2 linked regions of the Homo sapiens genome follow. Each later gene encodes a partner of the first gene's protein in a complex. Each region holds a gene or a part of one and is shown on either strand. Other genes may lie near its edges.

The links.
Region 2: DHX29 (region 1) and EIF1AX share a complex: the UniProt entries of both Homo sapiens proteins name them as parts of the 43S pre-initiation complex.

What each region holds. Positions count from the first base shown.
Region 1 is NC_000005.10:55,299,580-55,312,474, forward strand, and holds the start of DHX29 (ATP-dependent RNA helicase DHX29), read right to left. Parts: upstream 8,116-12,895; 5' UTR 7,995-8,115; coding exon 7,808-7,994; intron 1-7,807. Other genes in the region: MTREX (exosome RNA helicase MTR4), read left to right, coding at 8,435-8,568. UniProt on the Homo sapiens protein: ATP-binding RNA helicase involved in translation initiation. Part of the 43S pre-initiation complex that is required for efficient initiation on mRNAs of higher eukaryotes with structured 5'-UTRs by promoting efficient NTPase-dependent 48S complex formation.
Region 2 is NC_000023.11:20,137,057-20,149,669, forward strand, and holds the start of EIF1AX (eukaryotic translation initiation factor 1A, X-chromosomal), read right to left. Parts: upstream 4,783-12,613; 5' UTR 4,585-4,782; coding exon 4,569-4,584; intron 3,389-4,568; exon of another isoform or gene 3,279-3,388; intron 3,180-3,278; exon of another isoform or gene 2,912-3,179; intron 1,567-2,911; coding exon 1,483-1,566; intron 1-1,482. UniProt on the Homo sapiens protein: Component of the 43S pre-initiation complex (43S PIC), which binds to the mRNA cap-proximal region, scans mRNA 5'-untranslated region, and locates the initiation codon. This protein enhances formation of the cap-proximal complex.

The sequences.
Region 1 (12,895 bases):
AGAATCGTTCCTTCCCCCTTCCAGCTTCTGGTGGCAGCATAACACCAGTCTCTGCCTCCTCATTCACACGGCCTTCTTCCCTTTCTCTGTGTCCAAATGTCCCTCTCCTTTCTCTTGACATTCATTATTGGATTTAGGAATCACCCTAAATCTAGTATAATTTCATCTCAAGATCCACAGATCTGTAGAGCTTATTTCCAAACAAGGTCACATTCTGAGGTTCCAGGTGGACATGAATATTTGGGGGGACACTACTCACTCAACCCACTACAGTTGCCAAGTCTGTTCCAGTGAACAGAAACGCTGTCTAGTCTCAGTCCTTTAACAATGAGTAACCAGGAAACAACACACATTATTTTCAAACTTTTGGTCTCATGACCCCTTACTCTCTTAAAAATTACTGAGGATCCAAATAGTTTTTGTTTATGTGGGTTATGTCTATTGATACTTAGTATATTATAAATTAAAAGGGAAATTTTAAAACATTCATTCACCAAAAATAATAAATCTGGCCAGGCGCAGTGGCTCATGCCTGTAATCCCAGCACTTTGGGAGGCTGAGGTAGGAGGATCTCTTGAGCCCAGGAGTTTGAGAGCAGTCTGGGCAATATAGTGAGACTTTGCCTCTACAAAAATTATCCAGCTGTGGTAGCACATGTCTGAAGTCCCAGGTACTCAAGAGGCTGAGGCAGGAAAACTGCTTGAACCCAGGAGTTCAAGGCTGCAGTAGTAGCTACAGTGAGCTGTGACTGCAACACTGCACTCCAGCCTGGGCAACAGAGTGAGACCCTGTCTCTAATAATAATAATAATAGGCCAGGTGTGGTGGCTCATGCCTGTAATCCCAGCACTTGGGACGCGGAGGCGGGCAGATCACATGAGGTCAGGAGTTTGAGACCAGCCTGGCCAATATGGCAAAACCCCATTTCTAGTAAAAATACAAAAATTAGCTGGGCCTGGTGATGCATGCCTGTAATCCCAGCTACTTGGGAAGCTGAGGCAGGAGAACTGCTTTAACCCAGGAGGCAGAGGTTGCAGTGAGCCGAGACTGCACCACTGCACTCTGGCCTGGGAGACAGAGCGAGACTCTGTCTCAAAAAAACAAAAGGACCTCAACAAAATAATAAAAATAAACCTGTTCCATTAATATAAATGATGCTTAAGATGAAATGTGACTATATTTTTCAAGACAAAAAATAATATCCGTTTTTGCAAATCTCTTTAATATCTGGTATCTTAGTCTGCTCAGACTGCCACAACAAAATACCACAGACTGCTGGATGGCTTCACCATCAGAAATTTATTTCTCATAGTTCTGGAGGTTGGGAAGTCCAAGATTAGGGTACCAGCAAGGGAGGTTTCATTCTGAGGCCTCTTCTCTTGGCATGTAGGTGGCCATCATCTTGCTATATGTTCACATGGCTTTTTTCTCTGTGCTTACTCAGAGAAACTGAGCTCTCTTGGGTATCTCATTTTATAAGGACACTAATCCTGTTGGATCAGGGCCCCATCCCTGTGATCTCATTTAACCTTATGTACTTCCTTAGAGCCCTTATCTCCAAATATAGCCACACTGGGGGTAAGGGTCTCAACATACTAATTTTTTGAGGACACAAACATTCAGTTCGTAACATCTAGCTTCTGCATTCAATCTGCCGTAACATTACACATCATGTAGCCAACTGGACAACCTCACTGCATAATCATGAGAAAATGAGCGTGAAAAATGGCAAAAACATCTCAGAATTATTATGAAAAGTTTTCACTTCATGGAGCCCTTGGCAAACAAGTCTCAGGTTCCTTAGGACCTCCTGAGCACACTTTGAGAAACACTGCTGTATAAGAATGATCCCAGGCCAGGCGTGGTGGCTCACGCCTGTAATCCCAACACTTTGGGAGGCCAAGGCAGGTGGATCACCTGAGGTCAGGAGTTCAAGACCAGCCTGACCAACATGGAGAAACCCCATCTCTACTAAAAATACAAAATTAGCCAGGCGTGGTGGTGCATGCCTGTAATCCCAGCTACTCGGGAGGCTGAGGCAGGAGAATCGCTTGAACTCAGAAGGCGGAGGTTGCAGTGAGCCGAGATTTCGCCATTGCACTCCAGCCTGGGCAACAAGAGTGAAACTCCATCTCAAAAAAAAAAAAAAAAAAAAAAACAAGAATGATTCCAGAATCATAAATCTAGTTGCATGGTTTTTATACACCTTAAAATAAGAAGTATTTTTTCTACTTTGAGACATTTAAACATTAAATGTTCTTATGATTTTAAAGTCAAAGACTTTGCTCTCTGCTGGGTTACATTAGGTTCTTCATTTTAAGATGGTAGCTAATATAATTAGATATTTTAAAAGAACAAAAGTTTTTGAGAATAACTACTTGAAATTAACTTGTACATCTGGGCAGTCTGAAAGAGAAACATTTGTGGTTCTCTGTCAATTACTGCTATGCTATAGTTATATCGGAGGTACCCAAAGCTACATGGCATATGTAAAAAGATAATAACAAGTCTGGTATAGTATTGTTAGTTTCCTTATCGTCTAGTCTCAAACTTTACCTTAATTCTAGTAATCTCTCCTATAAATTCATGTCAATGGTCATAAAGGAGAGTATATATTTAGTAGTCTTTAACTATTTCTGGGGAGTCTTATCAATTATAGTAAGCTTGTGCACAAATTTAGCATGCAGTTTTAGAGGTCCCCAAACACATCAAGAGGCCCCAGCTATAACCCTTTTAAAAAGTTACAGATAGATGAGCAGTACATTACCAAGACTACATGGAGAAACAGTTCAAAGTTCATATGCTACTGACAAGAGTAAGACTGTAAATTCCTTTAAAAATGCCAGCCGGGGCAACATGGTGAAACCCCATCTCTACAAAAAATACAAAATATTAGCTAGGTGTGGTGGCTTGTGCCTGTAATCCCAGCTACTTGGGAGGCTGAGATGGGAGGATTGCTTGAGCCTGGGAGGCAGAGATTGTAGTGAGCCACTGGGCGACAGAGTGACCCTATCAAAAAAAAAAAAAAAAAAAACTGGTTGGTTTTTAATTTACCCAGTTGAAAAGATTAAAGTAAAATTCTCATTTGTCTCCTCCAAACATTTCACCTAAGAGTTTCAACTGTATCACTTCCTTGAAGTTGGCTTATACTGCAAACTTCCAGAGGGTAAACAAAAGAGCTGAGTTTCTGAAAAATGATCAGAGAAATCAAGGAATCCTGCTCAACATTCACTGGGCCACGTTCACTTTTGCCAAGTAAAGTGCATAAGATTTATGACAGCTACTTTCCTTATTGCCTGGAGACTTTTACAATTTTTGGTTTTGTGTTTAAGATGGTGGAAGTTACTGGAAATCTGACTGGAAGTAAGGATGTTAGTATGCAATATCTCCAAGGCAAAGTATTATGAATTCCAAATTTATAAATGAAAGGTCATGGAACGATGCAACATATATAGCTGGCTCTCAAAAATATTTATTACATTAAAGTTGAAGCACAGACAAACTGATTTCCTCAAAATGACTCAGCTAATTAAAAAAAAAAAATCAACCAGAATCAGTTTCTTATTGCCCAATAATCTTTTCTTTTGCTACATATTCTTTTTATACTGTATTTTAAAGGAAAAAGCAATGCTAATGACCCACTATGACTAAGACATTGACTTTGAGTTGTTAGCACTCTGATTCCCTTCTGATCGACAGTGTGTACATCTGCAGAATGGTTAATCAGGCAAGGGACCCAAACAGGGACTCTGGTGGTAAACAGACCCAGTGCCTGTCCTCATGGAGCTTATATTCTGGAACAGTAATATAATTAGTAAGCAACTAATACTCAGATGAGTAATAAAGGGGAAGTGCAGAGTGCCAAGAAAATAGATGAGGGTGAATTGATGTAGTCTGAGCAATTAAGGCCTGTGAGGAAGTACACACTGCCAGGGCCGCCTGACTAATTATTTTGAAATGTAAACCAGCTAAAGTTTCTCCTCTACTTAATACCAACACCGGCCCCCACTTCCCATTGAACTTGCTCTGGCTCCTTCCCAGACTTCCAGCCACATTTTAACTTTTTCTTTCTTCGCTCCAGCCACACAGCACTATCTTCTTACAACATGTCAAACTTGTTTCCACCTTAGGGTTTTTAGGCTTGTTTTTCCCTCTGCCACAAATACTCTGCAGATCATCTCAGTTTAAATGTTTTCTAAGGGAAGCTATTCCTATTTCAAACCAAAATAGACCCTCCATTCTCCATTTAATGTTTACCAAGTCACTATTTTCTGTTCCTCATAGCACTTTTTCTATTTTAGTGACCCTAAAAAAAAATTTATAATGGCTTTCATAAATTTATGACATCCATTCCCAATTCTTATTCCCCTCTTAAAATTTTAAGCCTCAACTAGGTTCAAGGATTTTCAGAAACACAAGCCTCTTGGTTGGAAGAGAAAACTTAAATTACTGAACCTCTTATTTTGGTCTCAGTCATAACATGATAAAGCAGCTTAATTATACTTAGGCTAAGGAAGTGGCACTTCTAAAGCACAGGAATGGAAAGAAGAAAGAAAAGAAAAGAAAGGCAAAGAGAAGGACAGTAAAAGAAAGATGGGGAAAGGTCTTGCTATTTCTAGAACACTCCAGGCTTGCATCTCAAGGCCTTTCTGTTCCCTCTCCCCAGGAGACTCTTTACCCAGTCATCTGTGTAACTACTTTACCTGCCTCCTTTGCTTGCTCAAATGTCACTTTTTTTTTTTTTTTTTTTTTTGAGACCGAGTCTTGCTGTCACCCAGGCTGGAGTGCAGTGGCACAATCTCAGCTCACTGCAAGCTCCGCCTCCCGGGTTCACGCCATTCTCCTGCCTCAGCCTCTCCGAGTAGCTGGGACTACAGGCGCTCGCCACTATGCCCAGCTAATTTTTTATATTTTTAGTAGAGACGGGGTTTCACCGTGGTCTCAATCTCCTGACCTCGTGATCCGCCTGCCTCGGCCTCCCAAAGTGCTGGGATTACAAGCGTGAGCCACTGCGCCTAGCCACCTTCTTATATGATGCCTTCCTTCCCTGACCATCCTATTTAATACTGAACCTCTCCCCACCCTCCTCCCTATTCGGCCTCTTCAGAAATTCTTTCATGAGCAAATGAAATTAAAAAAAAAACAAGACTGGTATTACTTGTTGTGCAAGCCATTTGGTGATTCTGAACCTCTACGATAGAGGACAATTTTGACCAGCTGTGCCGTCAAATTGGAAAGATAAGGAGGGACGGAAGTAGAGTAGAACCATTACATCTACATTAGGAACTACACAGAGTTGAGCATTTTTCCACTTTTTTCTCCAAAATAGGTTTATTGTACGTTATACTATATATTAAAAGCACCCTAAAATAAACCCAAAAGTTATGTGCAAATTTAGTAGATAACCTCTAGTTTTTTTCTCTTGATTTCTTGGTCTTAATAATTCCTTTGAACTTTCCTTACCAGTTATCCAAGTAATTTTCTTCATGACAATATGCACAGCACTAGAGTAGATACTGGGGAAATGTTAACACATATCCATAAAACTGTTCCTACCTCCTGTAATTTTGTTGGATATATAAAACATATAATTCTTTACATATCATAAGGCAAGAACTAACTATCAAAAAGAATGATTTAAACAACTATGATACGTCAGTTGTGAATAGCAGGAAGAATTCAAAAGGAAGTTGTTATCTGAAATGGGTATTTTAAGGTTTTGGTAGATGATGTTAGGGACAGATTGCACTCCATGAAGAAAAACATGGCAAGAATAAATACGAGGAAGGAGAAAGCTAAGAGCTCCATTTGGAGAAATGAAAACACACCAGACTTGCTATAGTTGAATAGAGGAATTATTAAAAGGTTAGAAAGAGGGTTTTAGAAGCTAGCTAAATGATTTGGATTTTATTGCAAAGTCAGTGAGGATGCCATGGAAGAAAATAGGAAGTGTTACGACCAAAGCAGCATTTCTGGAAGATCAGTCTGATGTTGATATGCAAGACCAACTGGAGGAAGCAAAATGAGCACAGCTGTGGAGCCCTATTAAAAGACTTCGTTGCTACTCCAGGAATTCACAGGTACCAAGACTAGGATGTGAACTACACAAATGCAAAGTGAAATATGGAAAAACAGAAACAAGGAAGTCGAAGAAAAAGTTAGTTTGGGGAAAGAAGAGTGGTTTAGTACTAGCCCTGTTAAATTTGAGATGCTTGCAAAAAATAGGGTCAGAGAATCCAGCAAAATGTATAAATTGCCAACTTGAGCTTGGAAGAGAGGCCATCTACAAAGGAAAAGATAGAAGTAATGGAAATAGATGAACACTCCTAGAAGGGCTTTAGGAGTGAACTATACTGTCAAGGATTGACACCTTGAGAAAGGGTCACAGTTTGGGGCTGGAGGAAAGGGAATTCAAAGAATACAACAAATGACTATCGGTTCAAATTCAGAGGAATGTCAGTAAAAGACAAAGGAAAAGTAAAAAAGAGGCTGATCCACAGAATAAAACTGCCATAGTTGTCAGGGAGAAATTCTATGTATTTGTAATTACAAGTATGCTAACTCTGTAGCTAACACTACAATAAATCGCAGGGCAAAGAACTGTTTCCACCTTCTAGGTAAAGGTCTGGTACCTGCCTACTTTTTCAGTCTCATCTCATTTCATCCTTTGGCGATGCTTTATGTTCTGTGAATTCCTCAAGAGCCCCAAGCTCTTTCCTGACTCAAACTTTTTACACATGATGTTCATTACGCCCGCCTGGAATACTAATTTCTGCCATGCTTCACAGAGTTAACTCCTTTTTCATTCTCCTCATCTCAGCTTAACTGTTACATTTCCAGACACCATCCATGATACCTGCTCATCCCGAGAAAAATTAGATTACCCTGTTAAACTGTCTTCCCTGGCTTTTCTTTGTGGCACTTATCTATTATAAGGCTATAAATATGTCTGTGTGCGTTACCTATTAGTTAATACCTATCTCTGACATTAGACTGGCAAGCTCCATGAGGTGATGTCTCTTTTTGCTCATCACATTCCTCACATCTTATCAGACACATACTAAATATTTGCATATATACACATAAATGCTCAGCAAATATTTCTTGAATACTCCAATAAGTACAAGCAAACAACCCGAGAAGAACACAACAGAATGTAATTGTTCATCTTTTGAGCTCAACCGTAATATGTGGCCTGCTCATCTGCAGCAGGAATCGGCCATCTATAAGTTGAGTTGTCAAATCAATTTGTACAGTAAGCAAAACTGCATGGCGGCAGAAACGAGGGCAGACAATTTTACAATAGATTACACGTAACCAGTGTGTAACCAGTGTGTAAGTCCTGTAATTTTTATTAAGTATTGATTTTTCCAGAACGCATGGAGACACTAGATTGTTGCTGAAAATGATATGAAAAACTGACAGAAAATGGGGCTGGCTGGCACCAGGAGGTCAGGAACTCCACTCAGTACTCGTCTTTGCGTTAGCCTAGCTAGCTGAGATGGTGCTCAGGATGAATTCCTGCTGAAACAGGAGCTAATGCAATTATTTTGTTTTTAGAAGGGGGAGAAGTGTGAGTTAAAAGAGAAATGCCAGGCTGCAACAGGGCTACTGTCAGAATTTTGGAGGCCCAAAGAGCTTAGACTTTTTTAATCTAAAACAAGGCCACCCCATGGGGAGGTAGCAGCTCGAGTGTTGGGAAATAGAAATGTTGGGCCCGAAGCTCCTCCCGGGTTCTAAGGCCCTTTCCTCAGGACAAGCAGCAAGGTCTCAGGGCAGACAGCCAGGGGCTGGGGGACCTCTCGTACCTTGCTTGACACGGGGCTCCCTGGAGCCGGCAGCGGCAGCGGCAGCGGTGGCCGGCCTGGACACTGGCTTCTTGCTTTGGGCCTCCCCGGCAATTCCAGCCTCGGCAGATTTGGCTCTGGAAGCAGACACGGCGGCCCGGACCACCGCGGCCGCTGGAGCCTTGTGTTTCTTGTTCTTGCCGCCCATGTTGCAGCTGTGGCAGAAGATCCTTCGCGGCCCAGGCCCCGACGGTACCACTGCACAGCCGAGAGCTCTTCACATTCCCCGGCTCCGGGGCTGCCACCCTGCGCTTCGATCCGGGCTTCTCGGGCCGGGGCGACCGCTGCCTCGCAATTGGTCGAATTCAGCAGGCTCCGCCTCCTTGAGTCGCCAGCTGCCTGCCACACGCCAGGCGCCACGCGCCGCCCTCGCTCTTTATCCACTGAGCAGCTTATCCACTTTAGGTCGGAAAGGAAAGGAAAGAAAAGCAGGAAAAAAAAAAAAAGTCAGGGGAACATTTTTGTCGGCTGCGCGACTCGACTACTTTTGTCTCCTGCGGGCCACTGTTGAGCCTTCACGAGACGTCACTGTCTTCGGTCGCGGGGCATCGTGGGTAGGAGGGAGATTTGCTCTCACTGCTCCCAAAAATGGCGGACGCATTCGGAGATGAGCTGTTCAGCGTGTTCGAGGGCGACTCGACCACTGCGGCGGGAACCAAAAAAGACAAGGAAAAGGACAAGGGGAAATGGAAGGGGCCTCCAGGGTCTGCAGACAAGGCAGGGTAAGGAAGAAGTTCCAGTTGTTGCTTTTATTTTTTTTCTCGGTGGGGAGGAAGAAAACACTACTCTCTTAGGAAGAGCACGAGAAAGTGAAGTGTACATTGAGTGGCGTTGGAAGTGAAGGGGTTCCAGAAAAAAGTTGGAGAGGGTGGAAGAATGTTGGTTCGTGGAAGGGGGGTCTTGGCGTTTCCTGGTGTCTGCAGGCAGCGTGATCTTCTGCTTCAATTCCCTTACGTCGATGTTACTGATTCTGTCCCCATCTTCGCGGTTGTCTCCTGCATCAGCACAACACCTGGCACATAGTCGTTAATAAACAAAACGAATGATTAGTTGAGTAAAAGGTGAAAAGGTTTAGAAAAAATGATATGAATTGATTTGGAGGGGAAAGGGCAGATAATAACATGAGAAGGGAGAGACATTTAATCTCCAAGATGTAGTAGTTTTCTCTTCCGTAAAATGGAGATAATAGTGCCTACCACTGGTGGATATGAGGATTCAATGAGATACACGTGTAAAGTGCCTAACAGTGGTTAGCTAGCTATCACTAATAAATGGTAGCTATCGTGAGTTTATTGAGAAAAAATTTAAAAATTACTGGACCCTACCCATATGTTTAGACTGGTGCATACAGCCACCAGAAAGTGTACAGATCTGTTTATAGTAGAACAAGGAAAAGCTATTACTTGTATTAAATAAAGTAAGATGATTAATTAACAATCAACAAAATATACTCTTGGCATTGTGGGGCCAGATACCCAATAGATGCTTGAAATTAAATTAGACATGATTTTGCTCTCAAGGAATTTTCGGTGTAGGGAAAGAGAACAGGTACCCATTAAAGAGTTACAGTATAGGTGAGGAGGTCGTTAACTTAAAATGAATGATATATACAATTAAGTGTTATAAAAGTTCAAGAAAGGGAGATCCTATTTCTGACTTTCAGGAAGGCTTATTTATATACAAGAGAATATTCTGAGTTAAGGAAATTGTGTTGTTAATGGTGCCAAGTTTGTTTGTTTTTAGGAGCATAAATTGAGCAAGAGGAACTGTTTCATTTAGGGACTACAAGAGATAAGACTGGGAATATACATTGATTTGAGAACATGAGGGGCCTTGAATATCAAGCAGAGGAGTTTTGATTTCATTTTTAAAACCCTGTTGAACAAGGTGATTGGATAAGTAGAATGATAGTTTAGGAAAATTAATTTGGCAGTGGTTGGCAGAGTACTATAATAGTATAGGGAAAGAAGATAGACAGTGAGAAAGTAAATTAGGAAATTATGTTAGTTATCTGGTTGTAAAGATGAAAAGAACCTCAACTCAGGCAGTGGCAGAGGAATGGAAAGGTACGAACATGTTAAGGAAAAAATGGACAGGCCTTCATTAATTAAGGAAAACAAGGGAAAGGAAGTCAAAAGAGATGTTTAATTTGCATGTCAGGGTGAAAAAAACAGGGACGTTCAGAGGTTTTGATATAGTGATAACATTAATTTGGCTTGAGACAATGTGAAGGGATGCTAGTATGTCTGTAGGAAAATGTCCACTGGGTAGTTTTAATAGGGTTTTGGAGAGAGACCAGGACTGGAGGTATATATTTGAATATCATTTGAATTGGTCTCCTTGAGATAGAGATCTCTGTGGGGAAGTAAGTGACACAACACAGAACTTCTGGAGAGGGTACATAAGCCTAAATAAGAGATTAGAGGGATAAGAGAAAATTCTATCAGGAGTGCGAAATGAGTGGAACAAAGTGGAAAAATAGTCTACTCGCATTAAGTTGGATTGGGAGAGTTTGGGGAAGCTTTTCAGAGAAAATAAGAAAGGAGGACCAATTATTTTTATTTCTTTCAAGACAGGAAGTAATAGTTGCTAGAGTGTTTGAATGGGCAACTATGATATTATGAAGACAATACATGTATAATTTACCATGTTAGTATATACTTTACCTCAAATTTGCTAGGATAAAATGAGTTTTATTTGCAGGTTAGTTGGGGTAAGCTGTTTGACAGCCTTCCAAAGTGAAAAGAGGAAATAAAAATCTAATTTACATTTCATTATATTAGGAAATGAATATTAGAGAAAGGAAATAAGAAAACACAGGAGAACGTTAGTAGCTTAAAGGGTTTTGTTTACTACCAACACTTCTAGCAAGGTCTTCTAGATATTTTTAAGAAAAAAATCCTGGCCGGGCGTGGTGGCTCACGCCTCTAATCCCACTTTGGGAGGCGGAGGCTGGCAGATCACCTGAGGTCAAGAGTTCGAGACCAGCTTCACCAACATGGCGAAACCCCATCTCTACTAAAAATACAAAATTTAGCCATGCCTGGTGGCAGGCGCCTGTAATCCCAGCTAGTTGGGAGGCTGAGACAAGAGAATGGCTTGAACCTGGGAGGTGGAGGTTGCAGTGAGCCGAGACTGTGCCACTGCACTCCAGCCTGGGCGACAGAGCTTGACTCCATCTCAAAAAAAAAAAGAGAAAAAATCCTATTTGCCTGATTGCAGTGGCCATACTAACATTATGCATAGTGTGATTCTCATCTGATCTGTGTAACATAGGAGGGCAAATCATGGAACTTCAGAGGAACTTGCCCTTTATTTAGTATTCTAGATCAAGTGGATGCTTTTTAAAAAAATAGTTTCTTTACCTTTTAGAGATGGGGTCTCATTTTCTCACCCAGGCTGGAGTGCACTGGTGCTTAGCAGCTTATGGTAACCTCGAACTCCTGGCCTCAAGCATTCCTCCCACCTCAGCCTCCTGAATAGCTAGAAGTACAGGTACACACCACCATATCGGGCTAATTTTAAAAATGTTTTGTAGAGACGGGTGTCTCATAGTATGTTGCCCAGGCTGGTTTCAAACTCCTGGCCTCAAGCAGTCCTCCCACCTTGGCCTCTGAAAGTGTTGGGATTCCAGATGTGAGCCACTGTGCACAGCCAGTGAGTACTTTTTAAAAAAACTTTATGAGAATTGTCAAACTATGTATTTTATATATAAAACAGTATGAAGAGCTTCATGTACTCATAACTCAGCTTCACCAATATCAAGTCATGATCAGTCTATTCCTACATCTTTTTTTTTTAATCAAATGCAAGTTGTTTTTTCTCCCTAAATATTTCAGTATTTATGTCATCCAACAAAACTAACAATAATTCCTTAATATCGTTAAATACTGAATCTGCAGTGAGATGTCCCCAGTTGTCTCGGATGTTTTTTGATCATTGGTAGTTGAATCAGGATTCAAACAAAACCCTACACTGTTTTTATTGTTATGTCCCTTAAGTATTTTATGCTACAACAGCCTCCCTCTTTTTTCTTTCTGCCATTGATTTCTATTTTGGAGGGATGAGTGAAGGGAGAAACCAGGTCATCTATTCTGTGGAGTTTCCCACATCCTGGATTTGCTTTCTTAAACTGCCATTTAACTTGCTCCTGTATCCTCAAGTATCTTCTGTAAACTGTCCTCATCCCTAGAGCTGCATTTTGTGACATAATAGCCACTATCCTCACGTAGCTGTTGAGCACTTAAAATATGACTTGTCAGAATTGAGATGTTCGGTGAGTGTAAAATTCACACCAGAATTGGAAACGTTAATATGAAAATTGTAAAATATCTCCTTAATTTTAATTTGGTTATAATTGAAATGATAGTATTTTGCATATATTGGGTTCAATGAAAGATATTAAAATTTATTTCAACAGTTTCTTTTTACCTTTTTAAATGTGGTTATTAGAAAATTTTAAATTACATATGCAGCTTGTAGCTTGTATATGTATGTATATATACTGGACTGCTCTGATCTAGTGGCTTGATTAGATTCAGGTTCAGTTTACTTCCTATTTCATTACATCATAATGTCTGAATATTCTACTGTTCTAAGATTGACAAGTTGGCGAAAATAGTATCACCCTGATTCCTCATCAACCTTTCACATGACGGCTTTAGCACCTAGTGATAATTGCCCAGGTCCATTACTTCACTAGTACTTGCACAGTGGCGATTTTCTGTTTTTATCATTTCTCTCTGCATTTATTACCTGGAATCCACCTATTAAAAAAGGCATTGTCTCATCAGCTGTTTGTTTACCTTGAAATACAGTTCATAAAGAAAAGGCAGGATAAATGCTTGATCCTTTAACAATTTTTAAGGAAATGAGTTGTGCCCTAAGGAAGTTTCAATGGTGACCAACATGGGTGTATGATTATGTTTCGTTTCTGGGTAAATGAGTGGATTTTTATATATTTACTCCTTTGCACTTATTTCTTCTTCTTTTTTTTTTTAATCTTATTGGGGTATAACTGAAGTGCAGTAAACCACCACAATCAAGATA
Region 2 (12,613 bases), on another chromosome or scaffold:
TTATATAAGAAAATATACTTGCACTTAGAAGATACATGATCAAGTAAGGGAAAAGTAACATGATGTCTCTAAATTTCAAATGGTCCTGAAGAAATCCTACATATGGGGCTAGGTGCGGTGGCTCACGCCTGTAATCCCAGCACTTTCGGAGGCCGAGACGGGTGGATCACGAGGTTAGGAGATCGAGACCCATCCTGGCTAACACAGTGAAACCCCGTCTCTACTAAAAATACAAAAAAAATACCCAGGCATGGTGGCGGGTGCCTGTAGTCCCAGCTACTTGGGAGGCTGAGGCAGGAGAATGGCGTGAACCCGGGAGGTGGAGCTTGTAGTGAGCCGAGATCGCGCCACTGCACTCCAGCCTGGGCGACAGAGCGAGACTCCATCTCAAAAAAAAAATTAAAAAATCCCACATATATATTTCTTTATATGTGTGTGTACAGATGAAGGATTTAAGGGAGTTTGTTGCACTAATACTGCAACTTTCTGTAGGTTTGAAATGACTCGAAATAAAAGTAACAGGAAAGGGCAAACGATCCAGTTAGGATTTATTTGACTAGTGCTATGTATCTTGGTCTGGCACTTACAATATTCTTCAGTCTAATAAAATCAGTTAACTGTTCAGTTTCATTTTATTGTAGTTTACGAAGTTATATGCTAATGGCACTGGAGAATGGAGAGGTCTATAAGGGCCTCAGGCTCATCCTTCAAATGTCCATGGTCTACTCAACATATTATATGTACCATTCACTACCAGAAATGCTAATCATAGAACTGCCAACTAAATCACAGAACTGTCAACCATAGCTCAATTCCCTCTGAACTATACGACACATTCTTAGTTCCCAGTACTTTGGGAGGTCATGGTGGGAGAATCACTTGAGCCCAGGAGTTCGAGAATAGCCAGGGCAACATATGAAGACCTCATCTCTATACAGTTTTTTTTTTTTTTTTTTTTTTTTTTTTGAGACAGAGTCTCCCTCTGTCACCCAGGCTGGAGTGCAGTGGTGTGATCTCGGCTCACTGCAACCTCCGCCTCCCAGGTTCAAACAATTCTCCTGCCTCAGCCTCCTGAGTAGCTGGGATTACAGGCACGTGCCACCACACCCAGCTAATTTTTGTAATTTTAGTAGAGACGGGGTTTCATCATGTTGGTCAGGCTGGTCTCGAACTCCTGACCTCGTGATCCGCCCGCCTTGGCCTCCCAAAGTGCTGGGATTACAGACGTGAGCCACTGCGCCCAGCCTAAAAAAATTTTTAAAATTAGCCAGACGTGGTGGTGTGTGCCTGTAGTCCCAAATACTCGGGAGGCTGAAGTGGAAGGACTGCTTCAGCCCAGGAGGTCATGGCTGCAGTGGGCTGTAATCGTGCCACCACACTTCACCCTGGGCGATGGGCAAGACGCTGTCTCAAAAAAATAAAGTCCCCAGCTAAAAAAGAAAGGATGTTATTTTAAAAAGCGTAATTTATGAAAACACTTACCCTGACCATCCTCTTTGAATACCAGTTCTCTTTTTTCAGATTCATTCTCATTCTTACCCCTGCGTCTGTTTTTACCTCCTTTACCTGATGGTTTAAAAAAAAGAAAAGGAGGTAAATGACATTAATTATCTGTAAAACAGTATGAAATAAAATGAAATTAAGGCTTATAAAACCATTTTTTAAAAGATCACTTAAATTAAAAAATTCATCTATTTTAGCTACACAATCATATTAAATTTACAATCTCCAATCCCAACATTAACACATTATCACCTCCCTACCCTTCTTGGAATTTCCTTTGGGGATTTTTCTGACATAAAATACACATAAATAGCAGATATTATGTTAAAAAATATAGAAAAACATTTCACTTTAGCACCCATCCTTTTGAAATAAAAATGCAATTCTATACATATTCTTCTAAGCGGAAATCTTGGGTGTCTTCTAAAGCCAGGCCCTATGCAAGGAACCCGATACTTTCAAAATTAAGTGAAGACAGTGTCTGGACAGAGAACTGTGGTTTTCAAACTTTTGGTAGCAGAGTACCATAAATATTGAAATCTCACTGGGTGCAGTGGTGTGCGCCTAGGGTCTCAGCTACTCAGGAGGCTCAGGTGGGAGGATCACTTGAGCAAGCCCAGGAGGTTCCAGGCTAGCCTGGGCAACATAGCGAGACACTGTCTCTTAAAAAATAAAGAAGATCTGTTCGGTACCCAATTTACTTTCTTTTATAATGCTGGTCCCTACTCAACATCCCTGTTTCTATTATATGACCCCAGTGACCATGCTCTTAACCACTATGCAATAATTCTGCCCATTTACTTGTCACAATCACCCCATGAGGTCATAACATTCATTTATTCCCAGTTTACCCATGAGTTCCCTGAAGCTCAGAGAAGTTAAGTAAGTCGCTTAGCTTCAGTGAGTAAATCAGTTCACTGATTACAGTCAGTAAGCTGGGGTGACCAAAGTCACAATGTTTTTTTTGCCCCTAGCCCCCACATAAGCTTACCTCTCCACAGCATTTTGCTCCCATTCCAGAAAGGAAACCACATTGGCAGCCATTTCCAAAAGGCAGGAAAAAGGCTGTAAGTGGTAATGACCCTAAGAGACTCATGGGAAGAGCTTGGAAGCAGCAAAAAAAAATGGAGGACACTTAAATTAGGTCATGAAAAGTACCATTCCTCTAAGTAAGATAACTAAGAACTGATTGGTTTCAGACAGTACAGGAATGATAAACACCAAACTCAGCCTGGTGATTACCTCCAAAAAGAGAGTAAAAGGTGATTAGGGCTTTACCTCAATCTGCGCTGTAATTCTTAAATTCAGAGTAATGGGTTCCCAGGTATATCATGTTAGCTGTATTTTTTGTATGCCTCAAATGTTATTTAAGAAAAGACTAATTACTTGTCAATTTACCAGAATTAACCATACCCGGATCACTCCCCTTTGTATTTTATTGCCATGTAATGGGATGTTCTTTAAATTCTCTGTTGAATGAATGAGACTAGGTCTGAGTGTACAACAATTAAAGTGACATCAACATTCTTTAAACCAGAGTTGTTTTGGAGAAATTCCCAGAGAGGCTCTTTCTTAAGACATGAGGCTAGGGAACTAGATGTGATTTAGTGTAGAAGTCCTATCCCCTTGGAACCAAAGCAGAACCTATTATTCACTAAGGGTGGAGTCGACAGGAGGTAGGTGACTTAAACCAACAAATATTTATTAAGCATCTACTAATTGTCAAGTGCTGGCAATCCAATGAGATTAAGACAGATACTATTCCTGCCTTGTAGAGCTTACAGCCTGGTGGAAGAATTGGAAATCTTATTACTAGAAATAAAGGTGAGAATAAGATGGAAGTGATCCCCTTACCACCTCAGAGAGAATAAAGGATTATACAGAAGAAAACTGTAAGACTTTAAAATTTTTTGTTTATAACTCCATCTTTTCCAAAATAATGAGCAGTGACTGCACCAACTTGTGCACAGAACACCTCGACCAAGTACCCTAAGGGATAAAGTAATAAGTGACAGCTACAAAGAGGAAATGTGGTAGAATCCCTGGAGCCAGCTGTCAAGTAGAAAAGAGAGCAGAAGTAGGCCTGTGTCAGGGGAGGGTTTCCTCTAGAATGAATAATCAAAGGAGACTACTTACGGACTATGAAGTATGCTCCTCTCCTGTAGGAAAATACAGTATTTTCCCTATATTTACTTGCACAATTTTCTTCAAGTTATACGGCTATTAAAAATGACAGGAACACTGTAAATCTATAAAAGTAATTTCTTTAGGAGTGTTCTGTTTTTTGTTTTTGTTTTTTTTTTTTTAAGATTAGGCCTTCCGTTTTGGAAATCCCAAATAAAGTTATCCTCAAGTCTGATCATTTGTGAACGCTTAGCCTCAGAATGGAGGACACTTAAATTAGGTCTTTATTCTCACAACATATGCATCATCTGAAGCAAAAGTAGAAAACTTGGCTCAATATGGAATAAGTCTTCAGCAAACAAACATAAGCTATATCCTGTAAAGGGATGGAGAGAGTAAATCTCTAGAGGTGAGCCTTAGAAATGTATCAAGGTTTCACCCACTGTTCACAAGGGACAGCGAGTAGCCTCAACAATACTGAACTGTCCATAAAGAAACCCATGCAGGAGTACCTGGTGCTCACGAATGCAGACAGCACTCTGAAAGTTCAGAACGGCTTCCAGGGATTATAACCCCTCATGCCCGGGAAGGCCAAAGGGGCCTATCTACTAAACCTAGGCCGCCCCGGGGAAGGTTCCCGCCACCGTCCCCACCGAGCAGCGGTCAGTCTGGCGCGAATCAGGAGCAAAAGCCCACATTCTCCCGCAGGAGGCCCTACAAAAATGGCGCCGGCTCCACCCCAATGTGACCAAACTGGGCAACAGGAGTTAACTTCCCAGCTCCTCTCCCGAGCTCAGAGTCGCGTGTGGGGCGCCCAGCCGCGGGCAGGCAGGGCGGGAAGGAAAAAGGGTCACTGCGGCCTGGGTGACCTGCAATCTACGGGCAGGACCTGGGAGACCCGGCCGAGCAGAGCCGTGGTCCGGGGGTCCGGGCGGCATTACCTTTATTCTTGGGCATGGCGGTGGCGGCGACCTCGCGGCGTCTCTGACTTCTTTCCGGGTAGCGGCGACCGCGGCGGCTGCTGCTCCGAGGGGCGACACGAGGGAGCGCGCGGGACCAAGTAGGTGCTGGAGGCCAGGCAACGTGCGCGGGAGAGGCTGGCGACCCAGCTCTTCAGAGATCCGCCTGCGTCCACGCTCGGCGGCAGCAAATGGCGCCGCGACTCTTTGCGTCGCTTTTCCCCGCCTCCCGTCGCCGGCTGGGCCCGCCCCCAGGCTTTATGACGCAGGCGTGGCCGACTGACTCCTATTGTTAGAGCCGAGGGAGACGCGTTGTGGGAGGGTGCGCAGCAAGCCAGAGAGGACGCGAGGGGCAGGGCCTCAAGCAGGGAAAAGGCGGAGTCAGGGAGGGAGGGGGAGAGACTCTGCGTCATAGAAAAGGGCGGGTTGAGGTGGCGCTTGCTGCTGGTTAAGACCAGACCTCTGCTGCTTTGTAGCAAACGCGCGTCTCCCGGTTTCACAAGTGGCTGACTCGTTAACCTCGTGGTTAGCTCAGTTTTTAAAAAATATGTATATTTTTATTTTTATTTTATTTTTTGAGACGGAGTCTTGCTCTAGAGTCGCCCAGGCTGGAGTGCAGTGGCGCGATCTCGGCTCACTGCAACCTCTGCCGCCCGGGTTCAAGCGATTCTCCTGCCTCGGCCTCCGGAGTAGCCGGGATTACAGGCACGTGCCGCCACGCCCGTCTAATTTTTGTGTTTTTAGTAGAGACGGGGTTTCAGCATCTTGGCTAGGCTGGTCTTGAACTCCTGACCACGTGATCCATCCGTCTCGGCCTCCCAAAGTGCTGGGATTACAGGCGTGAGCCACCGCGCCCGGCCAATATTTTAATTTTTTTATTAAGATGGAGTCTTGCTCTATCGCCCAGGCTGGAGTGCAGTGGCGCGATCACGGCTCACTACAACCTCCGCCTCCCGGGCTCAAGCGATTCTCCTGCCTCAGCCTCCCGAGTAGCTGGGATTACAGGCATGTGCCACCATGCCCAGGTAATTTTAGTACTTTTAGTTGAGACGGGGTTTCACCATGTTGGCCAGGCTGGTCTCGAACTCGTGACCTCAACTCGCGCCCACCTCGGCCTCCCAAAGTGCTGGGATTACAGGCGTCAGCCACCGTGCCCAGCCGGTTAGCTCATAACGCAGTCCTTTCACTCGCCCAGCCGGGTTGGGAGCCTGATGGGAAGGGCAAGGCTTTCCTGGCATCCATTACCAAAGCATAATATTTGCATGGCACTTGTTATTACTCTTTAAGTCTGTCTGTCCTACCTCACTGTAAACCTTACCGGGCAGAGACCATGTTTGTTGCTTACCATTACCCCCACTTAGCTGAATGTCTGGCACATAATAGGTGTTCAATACACACAGAAAGGAAGGGAGGGAGGGGAGAAAAGACTTAAGCTCAATGTTAATGGGCTGAATTGTGTCCCCCCCAAAATTCGTATGTTCACGTTCTAATCCCCAGTAACTCAATGTGACTGTATTTGGACATAAGTTCTTCAAAGACGTGATTAAATTGAAATGAGGTCATTAGTGTGGACCCTTATCTGACTGGTGTCCTTACAAGAAGATATTATTAGGCCACAGGCATAGAGGGAGAACACCACGTGAACAAGAAGGTAGCCATCTATAAGCCCAGGAGAGAGGCCAACCCTGTTGACGCTTGATTTTAGACTTTCAGTCTCCAGAACAATGAGAAAATAAATTTCTGTTGTTTAAGCCACTCAGTACGTGGTACTTTGTTATGACAGTCCTAGCAAACTAATACAGCTGGCTAATGCTGGGCTGTACTCTACAAGATTTATTTCTAAGTAAACTTATTTTGACTAAACCAAGTAAACTTATTTTAAATAAATCACCTTTCCACAAACACCAGGGTTTGCACATACTTAGAAGACAGAAATAAAGTATCATCATCTAATATAGTGGTTCTTTTCTGTGAACATTTGGCAGCGTCAACCAGAAATGTTTCTGGTTGTCATAACTTGAGGAGGGGGGCAGTGATGCTGGCATCTAGTGGGCAGAGGCCAGGGATGCGGCTAAACATCCTACAGTGCACAGTACAATCTCCCCTCCCCCATACAAGCAAACAATTATCCAGCCCAAAACATCAGCAGAGCTGATATTGAGAAACCCAATGACAGATGCACTTCTTAGAGTGAAATTGAAAGATAATGGGGGACTCAAAGTTCTGGGTTTCTCTTTCTATCTGCAATATTTTTCAATTTACATAATTGAGGATGAAAGGATTTTTTATGAAATTTATTTAAATTTTGCTCCAAGGTCAAATAATTATGAACTTGAGCTTTGGAGTTAGAGAGGCCTGGGTTCAAATTCAAGCTCTGCAGTAACTTATTACTCTATTTTCTTGGGCAAGTTTTAATCTCTTTACAAGCTTCCGTTTTCTCATCTGTAAATTGGATGTAGGAATAGTACTAACCGGCCAGGCGCAGTGGCTCACACCTATAATCCCAGCACTTTGGGAGGCCGAAGTGGGCGAATCACCTGAGGTCAGGAGTTCGAGACCAGCCTGGCCAAAATGGTGAAACCCCATCTCTACTCAAAAATTCAAAAATTAGCCGGGTATGGTGGCAGGCGCCTATAGTCCCAGCCACTTGGGAGACTGAGGCAGGAGAATCACTTGAACCCAGGAGGCGGAGGTTGCAGTGAGCCAAGATCGCGCCACTGCACTCCAGCCTGGGCAACAAGAGTGAAACTCCATCTCCAACAAACAAACGAACAAAAAAAAAGAAAAAAAAAAGAATAGTACTTACATTAGGTTGTTGCAGGAATTAAATTGATATAATGCATTCAATTAGCAATTGTGCCTAGTACATGGTAAGTAGTTAGACTCTAAGAGTCCGGAACTCTAAATGTTTAAAAATAAAAAGTTTCTGTCAATTACCCAGTATAAAACCTCAAAGAGGAAAAAAAAATATCAGGCTTCATTTCTCTACTGTAGGATGGTTCCCCCATCTGACTGATCATCTTAATCACTTGGAAGGAAGTGAGTCAGGTGGACATCTGGGGGAAATGTGTTCTAGGCAGAGAGAACAGCAAGGGCAAAGGCCCTGAGTGGAAGCATGCTTGGTATATTCAGGAAACAGCAAGAAGCCAGGTGCAGTGGCTTCCACCTGTAATCCCAGTGACTCAGGAGGCTGAGATGGGAAGATCGAGCTTGAGGCCAGTAGTTCGAGACCAGCCCAGGCAACATAGCGAGACCCACCCCCCCATCTCTAAAATAATAAACACACGACAGTAAAAAAAGCCAGGCATGGTAGTTCACATCTGTAGTCCCAGCTACTTGGGAGGCTGAGGCAGGAGGATCCTTAGAGCCCAGGAGTTTGAGGATGCAATGAGCTATGATCGTGCCACTGCATTTCAGCCTGGGCAACAGAGTGAGACCCCATGAAAGAAAGAAGGAAAGGAGGAAGGAGGGAAGGACATAAATGAAGGAAAGGAAAGAAGGAAGGAAGGAAGAAAAGAAAGGTCAGTGTGGCTAGAATGCATTGAGCCAAGGGAAGAATTTGAAGAGATGAGATTGGAGAAGTAAGGAGGCCAGATCACTTGAATCTTCAGTAGGTTTTTTTTTTTTTTTTTTTTTTTTTTTTTGAGACAGAGTCTCGCTCTGTTGCCCAGGCTGGAGTGCAGTGGCGCGATCTTGGCTCACTGCAACCTCCGCCCCCTAGGTTCAAGTGATTCACCTGCCTCAGCCTCCCTTAGTAGCTGGGACTACAGGTGTGCGCTACCGTGCCTGGCTAATTTTTGTATTTTTAGTAGAGACGGGGTTTCGCCATGTTGGCCAGGCTGTTCTCGAACTGCTGACCTCAAGTGATCCACCCGCTTTGGCCTCCCAAAGGGCTGGGATTACAGGCATGAGCCACTGCGCCCGGCCTTTCAGTAGGTTTTTAAATAGATCATTTTGGTTTCTGTGTTAAGAACAGACTGTAGGGGGCAAGGGTGGAAATGGAAACCACACGGGAGGCTACTGTAACAGTCCGAACGAAAGACAGTTGTGGCTTGGACTAGGGTATAAAGTTTCTTTTTAGGATGGTGAGAATGTTCTAAAATTACATTATAATAATGGTTGCACAACTCTGTAAGTACTATACTAAAAGACATTAAATTGCTGGGTGCGGTGGCTCACACCTGTAATCCCAGCACTCTGGGAGGCCGAGGCGGGTGGATCACAAGGTCAGGAGTTCGAGACCAGCCTGGCCAATATGGTGAAACCCCGTCTCTACTAAAAAATACAAAAATTAGCCGTACGTGGTGGTGTGCACCTGTAGTCCCAGCTACTTGGGAGGCTGAGGAGGGAGAATCACTGGAACCCATGAGCTGAGATCGTGCCACTGCATTCCAGGCTGGGCAAGAGTGAGACACTGTCTCAAAAAAAATAAAAACAAAACAAAACAGTAAATTGTACACTTTTTTTTTTGAGACAGAGTTTCATTCTTGTCTCCTAGGCTAGAGTGCAATGGCGTAATCTCAGCTCACTGCAACCTCTGCCTCCCAGATTCAAGTGATTCTCCTGCGTCAGCCTCATGAGTAGGTGGGATTATAGGCTCCTGCCACCATGCCCGGCTAATTTTTGTATTTTTAGTAGAGACGGGGTTTCGCCATGTTGGCCGGGCTGGTCTTGAACTCCTGACCTCAGGTGATCCACCTGCCTCGGCCTCCCAAAGTGCTGGGATTACAGGCATGAGCCACCATGCCCGGCCTAGATTGTACACTTTAAATGGTGAACTGTATGGCGTGTAAACTATATCTCAATAAAACTATTAAAGAAATAGGAGACGGATCAAATGACAAATGGTACTGAGGGTTTAGCTGAGGTTAGAAAATATAAATTTGCAGTGGTATCAGTTTGCATAATTATATGGTTTTCGAAACCACCATTGCAAAATTGTAACTGAGACAATGAGATCTGACCTAACCAACTCCAACTCCATCTTGTTTCTTTTTTTTTTTTTTTGAGACGGAGTCTCACTCTGTCGCCCAGGCTGGAGCGCAGTGGTGAGATCTCGGCTCACTGCAAGCTCCGCCTCCCGGGTTCACGCCATTCTCCTGCCTCAGCCTCCTGAGTAGCTGGGACTACAGGTGCCCGCCACCATGCCCGGCTAATTTTTTGTATTTTTAGTGGAGACGAGGTTTCACCATGTTAGCCAGGATGGTCTATGATTTCCTGACCTCGTGATCCGCCCACCTCGGCCTCCCAAAGTGCTGGGATTACAGGCGTGAGCCACCGTGCCTGGCCAACTCCATCTTGTTTCTAACCTCCAAGCTGTCCTTGTTCATTCCTGGGTGTAGGCTGGACTAACTTTAGGAGAAATTTAGTTTACAGTTTAAAACAAAAATGATAACAGCCCTTTCCCAAAATGAATCCCCTTCTTGCCTGGGGACTAGACTGCCTTTGTGGGACTAACAAATTAGCCAAAAGATTAGAAATTATGGTTTAGGAGTCATGCAGCTGGAGGCTACAAGATTCTGACTCTCTCCAAATTGCTCCTGGGGATAACATCGCTATCATAAAGCCTAAGATCAGTGCTTGATATATTTTGCAGACCCTGCACTTGATGGATCAGTTGGCACCACCCAGATCAATAAACTGGCTAATATGAGCTTGTGGCCCCCACCCAGGAACTGACTCATTGCAAGAGGACAGCTTCAATCCCCTATGATTTCATCTCTGACCTGGCCAATCAGCATTCTTGACTCACCGCCCCCCGACCCCCCACCAAATTATCCTTTAAAACTCTGATTCCTGAATGCTTAGGGAGACTGATTTGAGTAATAATAAAACTCCAGTCTCCTATACAGCTGGCTCTGCATGAATTACTCTTTCTCTACTGCAATTCTCCTGTCTTGATAAATTGGCTCTGTCTCCACAGAGCAAGGTGAATCCACTGGGTGGTTACATTTCTTCCATACAATAGCTGACTGCATACAATCATTAACCAAAATGATCCAGGATTGGAGTTTTTTTTTTTTTTTTTTTTTTTTGCTCAGTGGGTGCAGAATAAGGGAAAAATATAAGGAAGTTGCGGGTGCTTCTAAGAGAGAAGTTCAGATTATCAACTATGGGGCCATGAGGTTCAGTCTGGATAAAAAAGGAAATAAAGACTGGGGACTGTGGGGGAAAACCCCAGAGGTATAAAATTCAAATTCCTTAATATGATTTATTATGCCTTTGATGATCTGGCTCCTGCTTATCTCTTGAGCCTCACATTATTTCTTCTTCTCTTACTTTTTAAGTTCTAGTCATACAGAACTTTTGAGTGCCTCTAATTCCGAATTTCTATACATTCTATTCTACCCTTCTCCCTTGCCCTTTTAGGTCTCAGATTAATAATTGTTTCCTTAGAAGGTCTGCTCTAATCCCTAGGCAACCCTGCTACATATTCCTACAGCATCCTGCACTTCCTTTACCTAGCTTTTTTTTAGTGTGTCAATTTTATGAATTCAGGGTACATTAATATAAAGCTGCAGAAGCCTGACCATGGCCAATACTGCTACTCTGTGTCAGTCTGTCTGAGAAGCCAGGTGTTTCTATAATCATGGTAGGCAGACTAATGAACTTCAAAGATGTCCATGTCCAAATCCCTGGAATCCGTGAATTATGTTATCTCACATGGCAACAGGGAATAAAAGTTGCAGATGCAATTAATGTTGCTAATCTGTTGACCTTGAGATGGAGAGATTATCCTAGATTACGTGCGTAGGTGAAATCTAATCACACGAGTCCTTAAAAGTGGAAGAGGCAGAAGAGGAGGGGCAAAAAGATGCATATGGAGAGGACTTGACCCACTGTTGCTGGTTTTGAAGATGAAGGAATGGGCCATAAGTCAAGGAATGGAGGCAGCCTTTAGAAACTGGAAGAGGCAAGGAAACAATTCTTCCCTAGGGCCTCTGGAAAGGAACGTAGCAGCCTTGCTGACACCTTGATTTTAGCTCAGTGAGACCTGTATTGGACTTCTGATCTCCAGAAGTGTAAGATAACAAATTTGTGTTGTTTTAAGCCACTAAATTGTAGTAATTTGTTACAAAAATGGTAGAAAGCAAATACAGTTAACATTCCTACCTTGCCTCAGCATAATGCCAAGTAGACCTTGAAGGTCGCCATCTTATCTCGAGTACCTAAATCCAAGTGGATAGCCCCTGAACCAGCTGTTATGGGCTGAATTGTTACCTTCCCCAAATCCTTATGTTGAAGTCCCAACCCCCAGTACCTGAGAATGTAACAGTATTTGAAGATAAAGTCTTTAAAGAGGTGATTGAATTAAAATGAGGCTGTTAGAGTGGGGCTCTAATGCAACATGACTGGTGTCCTTATAAAAAAAGGAACACCAAGGCTGCACACGCACAGAGGACCAACCATGTGAAGAGGCAGCAAGAGGGCGGCCAACTATAAGCCAAAGAGAGAGGTCTCTGAAGAACCCAACCCTACAAGCACCCTGGTCTTGGACTTCCAGCCTCCAGAACTGTGAGAAAATAAATTCTGATTAAGTCACTCAATGTGTGGTATTTCATAATATGGAACTACTAAGAAATGTCAGCTGGGCAAGAAAAGGCTAACTTCAGGCCTATATAACCCATTCCCTCTCTACTAGGAATCAATGAACTCAATCAAATTTCCTCTAAAATGTGCTGATATTACCAGAGAGAAAATGTAAAGTCCTTATCTCTAAAATGCTTTTAGCAAGATATACTTGGTCTTTATAGATGGTTTATTGTAAAACTTGGGATTTGTGGATTCATGAGGCATGACTGGCTGGAGAATGAGGGCTCATTTAAACTGCATAATGAAGTATAAAAAGGAGATGTTGCAAAATCAAATGACTCCCTTTGTTTGAACAAGGTCTCCACATACAACGCTCAGAAAGAAACTTGTCCTTTTTGAATCCAAAGTGCACCGAGAGAGAAAAGGGCCATTTTTGGAGCTGGACTCTCTAACATTTTGGACTTCTCTAAAAAAAGAATATTTCTTCTGTGTCT